Homo sapiens: one gene and its partner. The protein of the gene in region 2 purifies or fractionates together with the protein of the main gene of each other region. This does not show direct contact. Each region holds a gene or a part of one and is shown on either strand. Other genes may lie near its edges.

Region 1 (7,029 bases), on a different chromosome or scaffold from region 2:
TACAACTTACCATATAAGGAATATTCTGCTTCCTGACCTGTGTCACTCTCACTGGAAGTTGATGTGAGGCTGGTGGTTAAAGTGTTACTTAAAGATTGACCAACTGATAAAACTGTTGTTGCTGTAGCTACATTGCTGCTGCTAGTAACACTGGATGTTGACATAGTCACTGTTGATGTAGTACCAGGTGTGGTCAAATTAGGGAAACTCTGAGCACCCATAAGAGGAGAAGCTAAAGACAAAAATGAAGCAAATCAGTACAAATAGGTGAGATTGTAGAAACCTCAGAAAAACCAAGTTTTTTATTTTTTAAAGAGTGAGGTCATAAAACACACTAATAATAAAATGGTTCCTGAAAAGCAACAACTTTGGGAACCCAACTGAAATCCAACTAAAAATTCTTTTTATAGCACTATTATATAATTACTTTGACCTGTTAGCAGCTTAAATTGGAATTTAACTTTCAGAAGCTAAGATCAATGTAGAGTCTAAACAAAAGCTATACTTATATGATGCTTTGGTTTCACTGCACTATGATAATATTTAATAGTCATCTATTTCCTCATGCAACTTTGCTTAATGATGTATCATAAAGGAGTGAAAATCAGAAGTACTGTTTTATGCTTCTAAAATAAGAGGTTCTTTATCACACCTAGTCTGAATTCTGCAAATATTATGATTCTAGAGAACTTCATATTCCTGAACTGCTAAATTTGATGTAGCTTTATCTAACATGGTTAATGATCTAGTTAAAAACTGCAGCCAGAACAAGAGACCCTATTTTGCATCCCTCCAAGTGGAAAAAGCATCGGATTCCAGAAGGAAAAGCTCACTTACTTGCTGTGCTCATCACATTCCTCCCCAAAGTATTAGTGTTGTTATCACTGCTGCTTCGGCTTAGATTCATGTTGTTCGTGGCATTAGTCCGTGCTATGTTTGCCACTCTCCTTACAAAACTCTCCAAGCTAGATGTTTCTCTTGAGGACAGGTTAGGTACACTTGCACTAGAGCTCATAGGGGCCCCAGCAGCCAACAAAGAACTCACTGACAGTCTGTTACTTGCTGAAGAGCTAAGAGGTCGTTGTGAAGCTGCTTCTTTATTAGTTAATTCAGATACTGAACTAACATCAGGAGAACTAACACTGACAATTCCCATGGATATTGCACTAGACTCCCCAGGAGTACGAACAGAACTATCAGGGCCTAACTTCCTTTCAGCATTTTCACTTCCCGTTTCCGCTGTTAAGGTGCTGGTGCTTGCACTGGAAGATGACCCTACTTCTGTTTGAGGGACGTTTTCAGCAGATGAAAGAACAACAATTGGTTCATGGACATCAGCTCCTGAAACTATACTGTGTTCCATTACAATTTCTGATCTCCGTTCCGTTTTGGTCGAACCCAAGCTGATGTCGCTGCTACTGGCCACGCTACACACAGAACTGCTGCTTCCTTTTCTACTTGAGGAGCCTGCAGCAGCAGATGTCTTGTCTGGACAGTTGTTTTTCACCAAGCTGCTCCATGATTGCGTTGTGCCTGAAACAGTGGATGAAACAGGTTTGGGTGATGCCACTGTATCAGGGTCGTACCCTGGTGCAAGCTTGAGGTCAAATTTTCCTTCTGCGCCCATACGGTAAGAGTTTGAGCCACCAGCATCCCAGGTGACATCAATCCAGCCTGGAAAGGGACAGGAGTTTGTGAGACCCAGCAGAAAGCAGATAGGAGCGTGTCAGACAGTAGCTCCACAATATGGGATCAGCTTTTCATCAGTGCTGTCCTTTTCTGAATTTCTATAGTCAATCAAGGTCTGCCCACTAAAATATATGTAAATTTTTGGACTCAATTATTTGACGATATGACTAGCTATCTGAAAGTCTATATTATTTAACTCTCATGATACAAATATTTTAAGGACAAGAAATATGTACTCTATACAAGGTTTCCAGGAAATGTTTAAAATTCTTCCTTTTATTTCCCTTATTTCTGAACTATTCAGTCTATGACATTTAAAAGCAATGTAAGGGTCATGTTTAAATCTACTGGGTTATATTTCATTTTTAAAATTATTTGATTTTTAGAGATGAGGTCTTGCGTTGCCCATGCTAATCTTGAACTCCTGGGCTTAAACGATCCTCCCACCTCAGCCTCTGGAGTAGCTGGGATTATAGATGTGAGCCACTGCACCTGGCTTGGTTACTTCTTAAATGGAAGAACTGTTTAAGAAATTTTAAAAGATTGATATACATGGTAAAATACTGCCACTTCAGCAAGTAAACAGAATCTAGGTAAAAGTTTTAAAACTGCTAAATATAATTATGTGTAGTCAAATTTTTTTTCTACAAAAACATGCCAGCTTACCATTAATTTCTTACAATTTGGGCTAACCTCTCAAAATATTCATATATTGCCATAGAAATTTTAGTCACTAGTTCAAATAAAACACTAAAGTTAGCATTTCGGTTGTGTTCTCAAAGTTCAGTGGTTCCTTGGTTCTCTTATATTAAATAATTAAGTTCAATAAATTTGAATAAACACAGAAAATTCTAAAAAAAAATTTAAAGAGCATACTGAACTCTTTTATTAGAACTATCTGCTAAAGCTAATAACATGTACAGAATTAACGAGCATAATGATATTCAATCTATATATTTACTTGTAGTAGAAAAATGATATTCTTTTTTTAAAAAGGTAATTAACTTCCAAAAGCAAAAAAAAAATTGTCTATTAAAAGCAAATTAATAGAAATTTTACAATCTTATTTTAGTGTTATAAGCTAACTATTTCAGGGAAAAACATAAGACATAAAAAACATTTTTTTAGAAGTATAACAAGCCTTTATAAAGTTCTTACCCATACATAAAAGGGGCCCAAGATCACATACACACCCATCCACACACCCAGATGCTCACCCACACTTACACCAAGTTCATATGTTTATGATAGCACTCAGAGGGAAATAATATTGAATTACCTGTGGGGATTATCTGCATATGTGTTCTTTGAAAGGAAAAGTGACTGCCCCAAATCTACATAAGTAGCTTAGATGAGATTTTTCAATTGCCTCTATTTTTTTCTGTATGCTGAAATAATCTCTGAAGAACCAACATTTAACTATCTCTTCTGCTACACAGAAATGTGTGAGAAAAGGAAAAGTTTCAAAAACATAGCCCAATCTCAAATAAAAGTAACTTTTGTATTATATTAATTGGCCCAAAAAACATACTCTCTCAACTCCTTCTACACCCAAAAGATAAACCAAAAAAAAAAAAAAATAGAGTCAGTAATGACTATCCATCATTAGAAATGGTTGGTTTAAGTATTTGAAAGCTAAGAACCCTCTCTGACATAGAGACTCAAAGGCATAACTTGATGGGAATGGCCATGTTGATTAGGCAAAACTAAATTTCTACATTTGTCAGATTAGCAAAAATAGGCCTTTCTTGAACGCTAAACTCTGAGATTTCTAGGCTAGGTGATTTTTTTTTTTCCCATCTGTGGCAGCTAAAACGAACAAACAAACAAAAAACACTCAAAATATTCAGATGTACATGTTAGCACTCTCTCATAGGGAGGTGCCATACCTCACGGTTCAAATATATTTTATAGATCAGTAACATTATTATACTGACATGTAATTGCAACTTACTATGCAGCAAAAATGAATCGAGAAGAAAAATAACCCACAGTGTCTATTTACCTTTGTATAGGCAATTGCTTAAGTTACTCTGCTTTTAACATTTGTACTTCAATAAAATGCTTATGTATGTATAGGAATGTCACAGTGCAAGATGCTGCTAGTACAGGCACAAAGTATTAAAATTATTTTTTGAAGACTGGTGGTTGTATTAAAACTGTTGTGCCATTGTATCTTGGGAAAAAAAAAAAGATTCTAATTTCCCTATGCAATTGCTTCAGTTGACTCCATCCTGAGAAAAAAGAACTGCATTCACACATCTCTAACTAGCCTCTTCTTATCAAGTCACATACATCAAGGCCAAAACAATTACAGGAAATAGAATAACAACTTTTTAATAAGTATCATCAAGATGCCTAAAAAGAAAACTTGAAATTTTCTGAGTTGAATGGCACTACTATTCAACTCAGTATAACAATAATAGTTGATATCTCAACTATTACTGGTATTTATGAATTTTAGGTCGCTGTAAACCTGTTTTGATTACAATGATTTGCAATTAGGGCATGATACTACATAAATACATTTGGCAGTAAAATAATTCAAGGAATAGAATCTTAAAAGCAATATAGTCAAAGGGTTTATTTGAATAAATAAATGTCTTTACCACATAAAACATGAAATTAAATGTCAGTCATTCTCGTAAGTACCGTCACATTTATTCTAGCTCTTTAAATATGTGGTGTAAGTTGCCGCGTGCGGTGGCTCACGCCTGTAATCCCAGCTCTTTGGGAGGCCGAGGTGGGTGGATCACCTGAGGTCGGGAGTTCAAGACCAGCCTGACCAACATGGAGAAACCCCGTCTCTACTAAAAATACAAAATTAGCCAGGCATGGTGGCCCATGCCTATAATCCTAGCTAGTCAGGAGGCTGAGACAGTAGAATCGCTTGAACCTGGGAAGCAGAGGTTGCAGTGAGCTGATATTGCGCCATTGCACTCCAGCCTGGGCAACAAGAGCGAGACTCTGTCTCAAAAAAAAAAAAAAAAATACATATATATACACACACATATATGTGGATATATATATGTGGTGTAAGTTGAGAATATAAACATTTTTACTTTTTTTAATGCCAAAAACTGATACAAAATTGATGAAAACAAACCCACTGCCATTTAGGCAAATTATCTGCTAATAAGTCAGCCTTATAGTTTGAAGAAAATAATTAGCCACTATAATTGCTTTAAAGTTAATAGCAATTTATTAAGTGGATGACTTTGCTAAACTGTGCAGCATCAAAGAAACTTGATTCACATAGCAATATTTAGAAAACATGATAAACTCCTCCCCAAAAAGCAGGTAGGCTAAGAAACACTTTGAAATAATAATAATCTACTAACAGATAAAGAGACAATGTTTCTTGTTCCATGCATTATTAAAAAACAGTAAAAATGTTAATCCTTTTTCTTCTATATGATTTATGATACCATAAAAATTATGGTGTGAGACTAACAAGATAAAGAAAAACATAAGAAATTAAAATAAAACTCACAGTAAGCTTGAAAATAAACTAGGGGAAAAAACCGGAAGTGTGTCTTGAAGATACTCAACTTACACTAGGCTTGATCACTTCCAAAATACTACCAGTAAGTTTCTAGTCAAAACCCAAGAACTTAAAATTTTCCCTTATTTTCTTTACCTTTTTTCCATTTGTAATGTGGTATCAACAGTTCTTCTAAACAGTGCTCATACATTTATGCAATTTATAAATTATCTTAAAAGAAAAAATTTAACTACCCATTTTCTACACAAAAGTGCTGAGCACCTACTCACCATTGTGTAGTTCTCCTGTGACAGTGCCTTCTCCCTGTGGGCTGCCATCCTGATCTCGCCATTTCCAATCCAGGCCTCTGATAACACGAGCTCCTGGAACCATGTATTTCAGAACCTGGGAACGTACTAGACGTCTCTGCCGTCTAAGATTAGCTTCTGCTTCTTTAGCTGCTTTCCCTGTCAGGTAGAAATTGGAGAAATAAAAACCAAATCACTTTTTACAAAAGTAATTGTTTTAGTAAGTTAGAAAAGCCTCGTATCATCTCTTTACCTAGCTGATCTTCACATACTCCATTTACAGTGCCATAAAGTTCGAATCCAGATAATGAGAGGTAGTGTGTTTGTCCACTGGCATTTTTCCCCATCTGTTTAATTCTCACATGTCTCCACCCTTGTTTCTCATCCTTTGGTGGATCAAGAGGCCAAGTTGCAGTTGACCTGTTAATATGTTAGAGAAAAAATTATGTAATATTTTAAAAGATGAAAAAGAAATTCAAGATGGGAAAGATTTTTTATATAACAGAGACCTGTAGAAAAAATAAACTAACTTTCATATTAACTCAACAGTTCATTACAAGAATCAAGAAATCAAAGGAAAAAAAGTAGTCAAGAGAACAAGTTAAAAACGAAACATTTAAATGTACGCTATTGATTTGACTCATAACATTAATGATTTATGATTAATATAATTCAAAGATAAAAGACAAAATGCTGGGTGCAGTGGTGTTTGGGTGGCTGAGGTGAGGGGAATCACTTGAGCCCAGAAGTTAGAAAGCAGCCAACATAACAAGACCCCATTCTCCTTAAAAAAAAAAAAAGGATGGTTTACAAAGAGTAGGAGAAATTCTCTTATGATGGAAAAACGGACTTAAAAACATTTTTGCAAACTTTTAAATAACGTATTAATATTTTGTCTTTAAAGCATGAAAGGGGTGAAAACATCACCTATTAATCCTAATGTTAAGAAGCTCCTCTCATACCATATCAAATGCCAAAAGCAATTTGGGTACATAATCTACCCCCTGATATGTGCCAAAATGCATAAATAAAATTTAGTAGAACTAATTTTTTAGAAGTTACTGACTTGTCTTTTAAAAACTTATTCAATACATAAAATTTAAGGATAAAAATAAAAACATTTTAAGTCAGCCTTAATTCTATAACGAGCAATAGCCACTGCTAATATGTTGAACATTCCTAAGTATTATGTGATTATATGGAGAGTTTATGGAAAGTTTATTTCACTTGTTTCCATTAGTGGGCTGTGTGTGTATGCATAAATGTGTGTGTGTGTGTGTGTGTGTGTGTGTGTGTGTGTGTGTGTGTGTGTGCGCGCGTATGTATATACAGCTATATACCAATTTTTAAAATAAATATTCACAGCATCTCAGCCTTTTGGCTAAGATACAGTGTAAAATAGCTCGGCTTTCTATTATTTAAACTAAACCTTTTGACAAAGTTTTAGTAAAGTCAGTGTTTCAAAGTTTTAATGCCTAAAGTATCAAGTGATTTGTTTTTAGAAAGAAAATTTTGCTTCAATATTTCACAAGGAAGAGAGCTCTAGAG
Region 2 (7,029 bases):
GGTGTGGACATTATCTTGCCTGCCACTCTATTTATATTGGTCATGCAAATCACCCAAAAAGCCCAAAGAGGGGGTAGAGGGAGATGAACCTATAAGGAAGTCAATGGGCAAGTTAAAAATGTAAATTTGGACATTATAACTTATTTCATCAATACTGTTTTTATTTTTTTGTTTTTATTTATTTATTTATTTTGAGACAGAGTTTCACTTTGTTGCCCGGGCTGGAGTGCGGTGGCATGATCTCAGCTCACTGCAACCTCCGCCTCCCAGGTCCAAGAGATTCTTCTGCCTCAGCCTCCCAAGTAGCTGGGATTACAGATGCCCGCCACCACACCCAGCTAATTTTTGTATTTTCAGTAGAGACGAGGTTTCACCATGTTGGCCAGGCTGGTCTTGAACTCCTGACCTCAAGTGATCCGACCGCCCCGCTCTCCCAAAGTGCTGGGATTACAGGCATGAGCCACCGCGACCAGCAGATGGTGTGTTTTTAAAAACACCAAATGTTTTGTGCCTTCAGGTAAGTCATCAATAAAATATCCTTGTGAAAGAAATAATTTTTAAAGCTAAGGAGTAATGAACTAGAGAATAGAAGCCTCTTCTATTTTTTTCTTCACAATCGTTTGTATGCCCTGAGTTTTCTCTCAAGTTAAAAAGTCACCCCAAAGATGTCTTAAATGGGCAAAATCACCAGTGTCCAATGCAAGGATTTCCTTTTCCGTTTTGACATGGTAATTTTCTTGGTAATATAAATCACTTTAAAATCATTCCAGTTCAAAGGAATATAATCTCTCAAAAACTAAATGACTTTTCCTTCACAGAAGTTAATTTAATTTTGTTTGGATTATTGTACAACCTCCCTTTCATTACACCAGGCACATATTTCAACAGTAGAAACTTTTTTTAAAAAAATCATTATAGAAGATTACATTTTGCAACGGTTTTGTTTCTCCAGAGAAAAAAGTAATACTAATTTAATAATTTACTTGAGAAAAACCTCTGACAAATTGTAAATGTCCATCTATATACGTAATTCTTAATATCAATACCAAAACAAATTGAAAAGAATATTTTAAAATGTAATACGCCTACACTTTGCTATTTTTTTTTTTAAACAAGGTGTGTAAGTAAAACCAAATGGACAAATACCTTCTGACATATTTAATACCATGCAAGTTTTAAGACATGGTCTTGCTCTGTCACCCAGGCTGCAATGCAGTGACACAATCATGGCCCGCTGCAGCCTGGGCGCAAGTGTTCCTCCCATCCCAGCCTCCTGCATAGGTGGGGACCACATGGGAACACCACCATGTCCTGCTAATTTTTTTTATTTTTTATAGAGACGAGGTCTCGCCAAGTTGCCCAGGTTGGTTTTAGAGTCCTAGGCTGAAACGATCCTCCCCTCTTCTCAACCTCCCACAGTGCTGGGATTACAGGACTGAGCCACCATATCCAGACCCATCCAGAAACTGTGGAAATATTTAGATATTTCTAGAGTTACACTTGGCACTCTAGAGTGGACAGACACCATATGACACGTTATACGGATTTCTGGCAAGAGGCCCAAATACAATTAGAATCCAAATGGATTTGCCTCAAACATTGATTCTCAACACAATTAAGTTATGAGAAAAGGGAAAATAATAGATTAAATATAACAATATTTTTGCAGACAACTAATATAAGAAAACGTTACCAATACATGTTCTATGTTTTAAAAATCATGTAAGACCAGGCACAGTGGCTCACACCTGTAATCCCAGCACTTTGGGAGACCGAGGCGGGCGGGCTGCTTGAACCCAGGAGTTTGAGACCAGCCTGGGCAACAAGGGGAAACCTCATCTCTACAAAAAATGCAAAATTAGCCAGGCGTGGTGGTGCACGTCTGTAGTCCCATCTACCTGGGTGGCTGAGGTAGGAGAATTGCTTGAGCCCAGGAGGCAGAGATTGAAGTGAGCCAAGATCACACACCACTGCACTCTAGCCTGGGAGACAGTGAGACCACCTTGCCTCAAAAAAGTTAATTAGTTAATTAATTAAAAAATAAAACAATAAAAATCATCTAAGTCTTTACAGACATGTCAAAATTCTGAAAGTGGGACAAATTTTGCTCAGAAACCATCAGAATTATAATCCTCATGATGCCACTTCATCCTGCTACTTGATAAAGAAGAGATTCTGGTTCAGTCCGTAAGTCATTGATTTTCAACAGGGAACACCACTGCATGTGCACTTCACGTCACCCCAAAACTTCAGAGCACCGGGAGGCATTACTGATTCACATATTCCCTATAGTGAAAGCTGTTCATACCACTGCTATTGGGCAACTGAGTATTTCAGCATAAAAATTCCAGTTTCAGGCCAGGTGGTGGCTCACAACTGCAGTCCCAGTACTTGAGTCCAGGAGTCTGAAACCAGCCTGGGCAACACAGAGAGACCCCATCTCTACAAATCATTTTTAAAATTGGCGGGGCATGGTGGTATACACCTGTACGCCCAGCTACTAGGGAAGCTGAGGTGGGAGGACTGCTTAAGCCCAGGAGGTCAAGGCTGCAGTGAGCTGTGATCGCACCACTGCACTCCAGCATGGGCAACAGAGCAAGATCCTGTCTCAAAAAAAAAAAAAAAATGTGTGTGTGTGTGTGTGTGTGTGTGTATACGTGAATATATATACATATATGTGTGTGTAAACATATATATATACATATGTGTGTAAACATATATATATACATATATATGTGTATACATAGTTTCAATGTGAACTTGTTACTTAAGTTTGATTTTTTTCCCCCTATACCTTCAACAGCCCCAACCAAATCTCAGCTCCTAAACTTAAGAAAGATGCAGCTATTGTTTAGGAAGTAAGATAAACGCCAACTAGGAAGCAGCAGGTCCAATGACAACTGAATAAAATATTTCAAGTAAAAATCTCATTTGATAGTTATAGCAAACACATAGAATGATTTTTTTGAAAAAACAAATATTGCCATGAGTGAAAGTAGGGAGGTAGAGAAATTAAACATAAACCTGACTTTAGACTTTTCATGTCCATAGACTGCCTGGTGATAAACTGAAGCCTCTATACCCTTTCCTGTAAGACCCTTTCATACCCACTACTTACCTCAGTCTTCCTGACAACCAGTGAGAAGTAAAACTGGCTCTCCTGGGTTGAGCCCCAACTATTGAAAAACATAGAGAGCTAGGAAGCAGGCAAAGAATCTAGAAATTCATAGGAGGAGTAGGATAAAGGTTTGCCCAGACCCTAGTTCCCAAAAATATTCATTCGTTCATTGATATAAAAATACCTGAGTGCCTAGTATGTATGTAGCAGGCACTGTTGTACATACTAAGATACAGCTTTGAACAAAACATAAAATTACTGGCCCTCAGGAAGCTTAAATTCTAGAGTAGAGAGAGACAAATAATAAACAAGATGATGAAGCATATTAGAAGTGTTATGAAGAAAATTAATGCTGTGGGGAGGGATAATGGACAGGGATGAAATTTTAGATACGGCAGTCATGGAGGACCTCATTGAGAAGGCAATACATGAGAAAAGAAGCGAAGGTGGAGAGCAATCCAGGCAGAGCAAACAGCAAGTAAAAGGCTTGAGGCTTATTTATAGGAAAAAAAAAAAAGGTGGCAAGAGTGGCTGGAATGAAATGGAAAAGGTGGAAAACAGATTAGTTCAGAGATAAACTATATTTGGCCCTTGAACAACATGGAGATTAGGGGGACCAATCTCCCACACAGTAGAAAATCCATGTATAACTTTTAACTCCCCCCAAAATACTGATAGCCTACTGTTGACCGGAAGCCTTACTAATAGCATAAACAGTCGAACACATATTTGTATATGTATTATACACTGTATTCTTGTAATACATTAGAGAAAAGAAAATGTTATTAAGAAAATCATAAGGAAGAGAAAATACATTTACCAACTCATTAAGTCAAAGTGGCTCATCATAAAGGTCTTCATCATCATCATCTTCACCTTGAGTAGGCTGAGGAGGGGGAGGAGGAAGAAGAGGCATTATTCTTGCTGTCTCAGGGGTGGCAGAGCTGGTAGAAAACTCACGTATAAGTGGACGCGCACAGTTCAGACCTGTGTTATTCAAGGGTCAAAAGTATATGGAGGGAAGCTGAAGTGTGCAATACAGAGCATGTAGATGGCCTTGTAGAGTTTTTGAGGGACTCTGGCTTTTAATCCAAGTAAAACAGGTGATCACTAGAGGGTTCTGAGAAGAATTAGCTCCTCTGATGACAGCAGATTGTACGGAGGGCAAAGGCAAGGGTAGATCATGGTTTGGACAAGAATAGTGAGAAGTGGTCAGAGTACAGATATATTTTGAAGGTAGAGCCAAAGAATCTTCTCAGAAATAGAAGTGGGGCATAAGAGAAAGAAGAATCAAGGAGGGCCAAGGCTTTTGGCACAAGCAATGGAATGAGAAATTTGCCATCAACCAAGATGAGAGCCTGGGAAAAAATAGATTTGAAGGAGAGATCAGTTCTGTTTTAGCATTACTGAGCTTGAAATGAGCTTGAGTTTTTAAACACTCCAGGAAAGATGCTGAATAGGCAGCTGGATATATGAGTCTAGGATTCAGGAATACACATTACAGCACAGATTTAATATGGTGTTCTTATCTAACCCTGTGTCTTTTTAAGGACGTATCTATGTACACAAATTGAAGTGCAATTTCATAAGGCAACTGATTCAATACAATAGCAGAACAAAAGCAGGGCATTAGGTAGTGCTGCTCTATTCTCTAGATACATTATTGTCTACCCAGTGAGAAAAGCAGTCTATGGTGAGTGCTCACATGACCGCCCTAAAAACCTGATGTACCTAAAAACATCTAGTACCAACTGCAGACATTCCAGAGACAACTGTACATTTACATTCACACCTCTACCTTTACCACCCTGGTTCTCAACCTCAGGCTCTACTACTGATATCAGGTTTTGGCACAGCTGTCCCCAACATCCTCTCACCACATAAGATAATATGACTTATGTGAAACTTAACACCCAACAGCTATGTCAATATGTTTGCTCGATACTGCTGATGTGTTAGTTGACATCTGCCCTCTCAACAACTGAATCTTCCTCATTCCTAGTTTATCAGCTACAAAGCTGACCTGAGGTTGCAATTTTTTTCCAACTTTAAATGGAAAAGTCTCACATTTTATACTCAGTGTATATACTACTTTAGAGATGTATTTTTTAAAAAACACTTAACATCAATAACCCAAAATACACTGTATCTAATGAAATCTGGGGAACATAAGGCAGGCAGAAAAGGGACGTAAAGATTAATTTTGAGTACATGTGAACTTCTGTTAGTCTTACTGCTCAAGCCTTTTTTTAAATTAACCCAACACAATGTAAACAAGTTTAAAAAAAGTATTTAACATATTTCAGTTATGTTTACACATCAGAATATGGCTATCCCATAGAAACAGGCCTATAATTATAACCTTACGTATAACAGTTCAGAATGACATTGTAGAGTTAATAGTAAAAATTATTTGCCAATAGGAAAGACATAGTCCACATTACCAAGAACCAAATACAATCAACCCTTGCCCCTAAGAATCTAGAAACTTTGCAGGTAGAAACAGCAACTTAATGACAAATCATTTTATAAATAAAACAACGTCAAATCCAATACTGGTCCTATTGGTAGAAGTTTTTGTTCCACTTTTCTTTTCTTTTTTTTTTTTTTTTTGAGACAGGGTTTTGCTCTTGTTGCCCAGGCTGCAGTGCAATGGTGCAGTCTTGGCTCACTGCAACCTCCACCTCCCAGGTTCAAGCGATTCTCCTGCCTCAGCCTCCCAGGTAGCTGGGACTACAGGCATGTGCCACCATGCCCGGCTAATTTTGTATTTTTAGTAGAGACGGGGTTTCTTCATGTTGGTCAGGCTGGTCTCGAACTCCCGACCTCAGGTGACCCGCCCAACTCAATCTCCCAAAGTGCTGGGATTAACAGACCTGAGCCACTGTGCCTGGCCTTGTTCCACTTTTAAATTGAACTCAGTGATTAAAATGCAAAGAGATGGGCCGGACCCAGTGGCTTACCCCTGTAATCCTGGCACTCTGGGAGGCTGAGGTGGGTGGATCACTTGAGCACAGGAATAAGATGCCAGCCTGGGTAACAAGGTAAAACCCCGTCTCTCCAAAAAAAATACAAAAATTTGCCAGGCGTGGTGGTATGCGCCTGTAGTCCCAGCTACCCAGGAGGCTGAGGTGGGCGGATGGCTTGAGCTTAGGAAGTCAAGGCTGCAGTGAGCCATGATTGCAGCACTGCACTCCAGCCTCGCGACCCTGTCTCAAAAAAATAAATAAAATGCAAAGAGGTACAAGGATGGCTAGTCGTCTAGTCAAAAGTAGTAAGGATATGTAGAAAAAGGCAGGACCAAGAAGAAATAATGTCATAAAGACAAACATGTTGATTCATCTAACTTGTGTGTTTCAAGGAAAGAAAATATTTCAAATCAGGTGTTCTTATCCTGAGATCCACTGACTTGAAGCAACCGGGGGTTGAAATGAAGCCCTGATTCCTAAAGGATTCTATGACCTTTAGTGAGGTTTAGTGACCTTCACTGTGAGGTTAAGAACCGTCACAATGAAGTCTAGTTCATTTTCATCTATAAACCTACATGTACTATAACACCACCTTGTAGTCCAAGTATTCATAGTACACTACTCCCTGAAAAAAAAAAAAAAAAAAAAAAAAATGATTTTAAGACTGTTCCAAAGGCATACAAGCAATTAAAAGACAATCACACCCAACATAAAAGCTCACAGATATGTAAAGATTCCATTTATATGAATATCCAGAATAGGTAAATCCACAGACACCAAAAGCAGACTGGCAGTTATCAAGGGTTAGCGGGTAGGGGTAGGGGGCAGTAACTGCTTAATGGGTACATAGTTTCCTTTTGGGATGATGAAAATGTTCTGGAACAACACAGAGGTAGTGGTTACACAATGTGAATGCACTAAATGCCAAATGAGTTGTTCACT

The links. Proteins that work in one complex are often made in the same cells at the same time.
Region 1: the proteins of ZRANB1 (region 2) and HECTD1 purify together in Homo sapiens (affinity purification with mass spectrometry; 5 studies listed by BioGRID and IntAct, with this or other methods). This does not show direct contact.

The regions. Positions count from the first base shown.
Region 1 is NC_000014.9:31,127,775-31,134,803, forward strand, and holds part of HECTD1 (E3 ubiquitin-protein ligase HECTD1), read right to left. Parts: intron 5,902-7,029; coding exon 5,735-5,901; intron 5,641-5,734; coding exon 5,464-5,640; intron 1,675-5,463; coding exon 838-1,674; intron 233-837; coding exon 11-232; intron 1-10. UniProt on the Homo sapiens protein: E3 ubiquitin-protein ligase which accepts ubiquitin from an E2 ubiquitin-conjugating enzyme in the form of a thioester and then directly transfers the ubiquitin to targeted substrates.
Region 2 is NC_000010.11:124,945,121-124,952,149, reverse strand, and holds part of ZRANB1 (ubiquitin thioesterase ZRANB1), read right to left. Parts: intron 1-7,029. UniProt on the Homo sapiens protein: Ubiquitin thioesterase, which specifically hydrolyzes 'Lys-29'-linked and 'Lys-33'-linked diubiquitin. Also cleaves 'Lys-63'-linked chains, but with 40-fold less efficiency compared to 'Lys-29'-linked ones.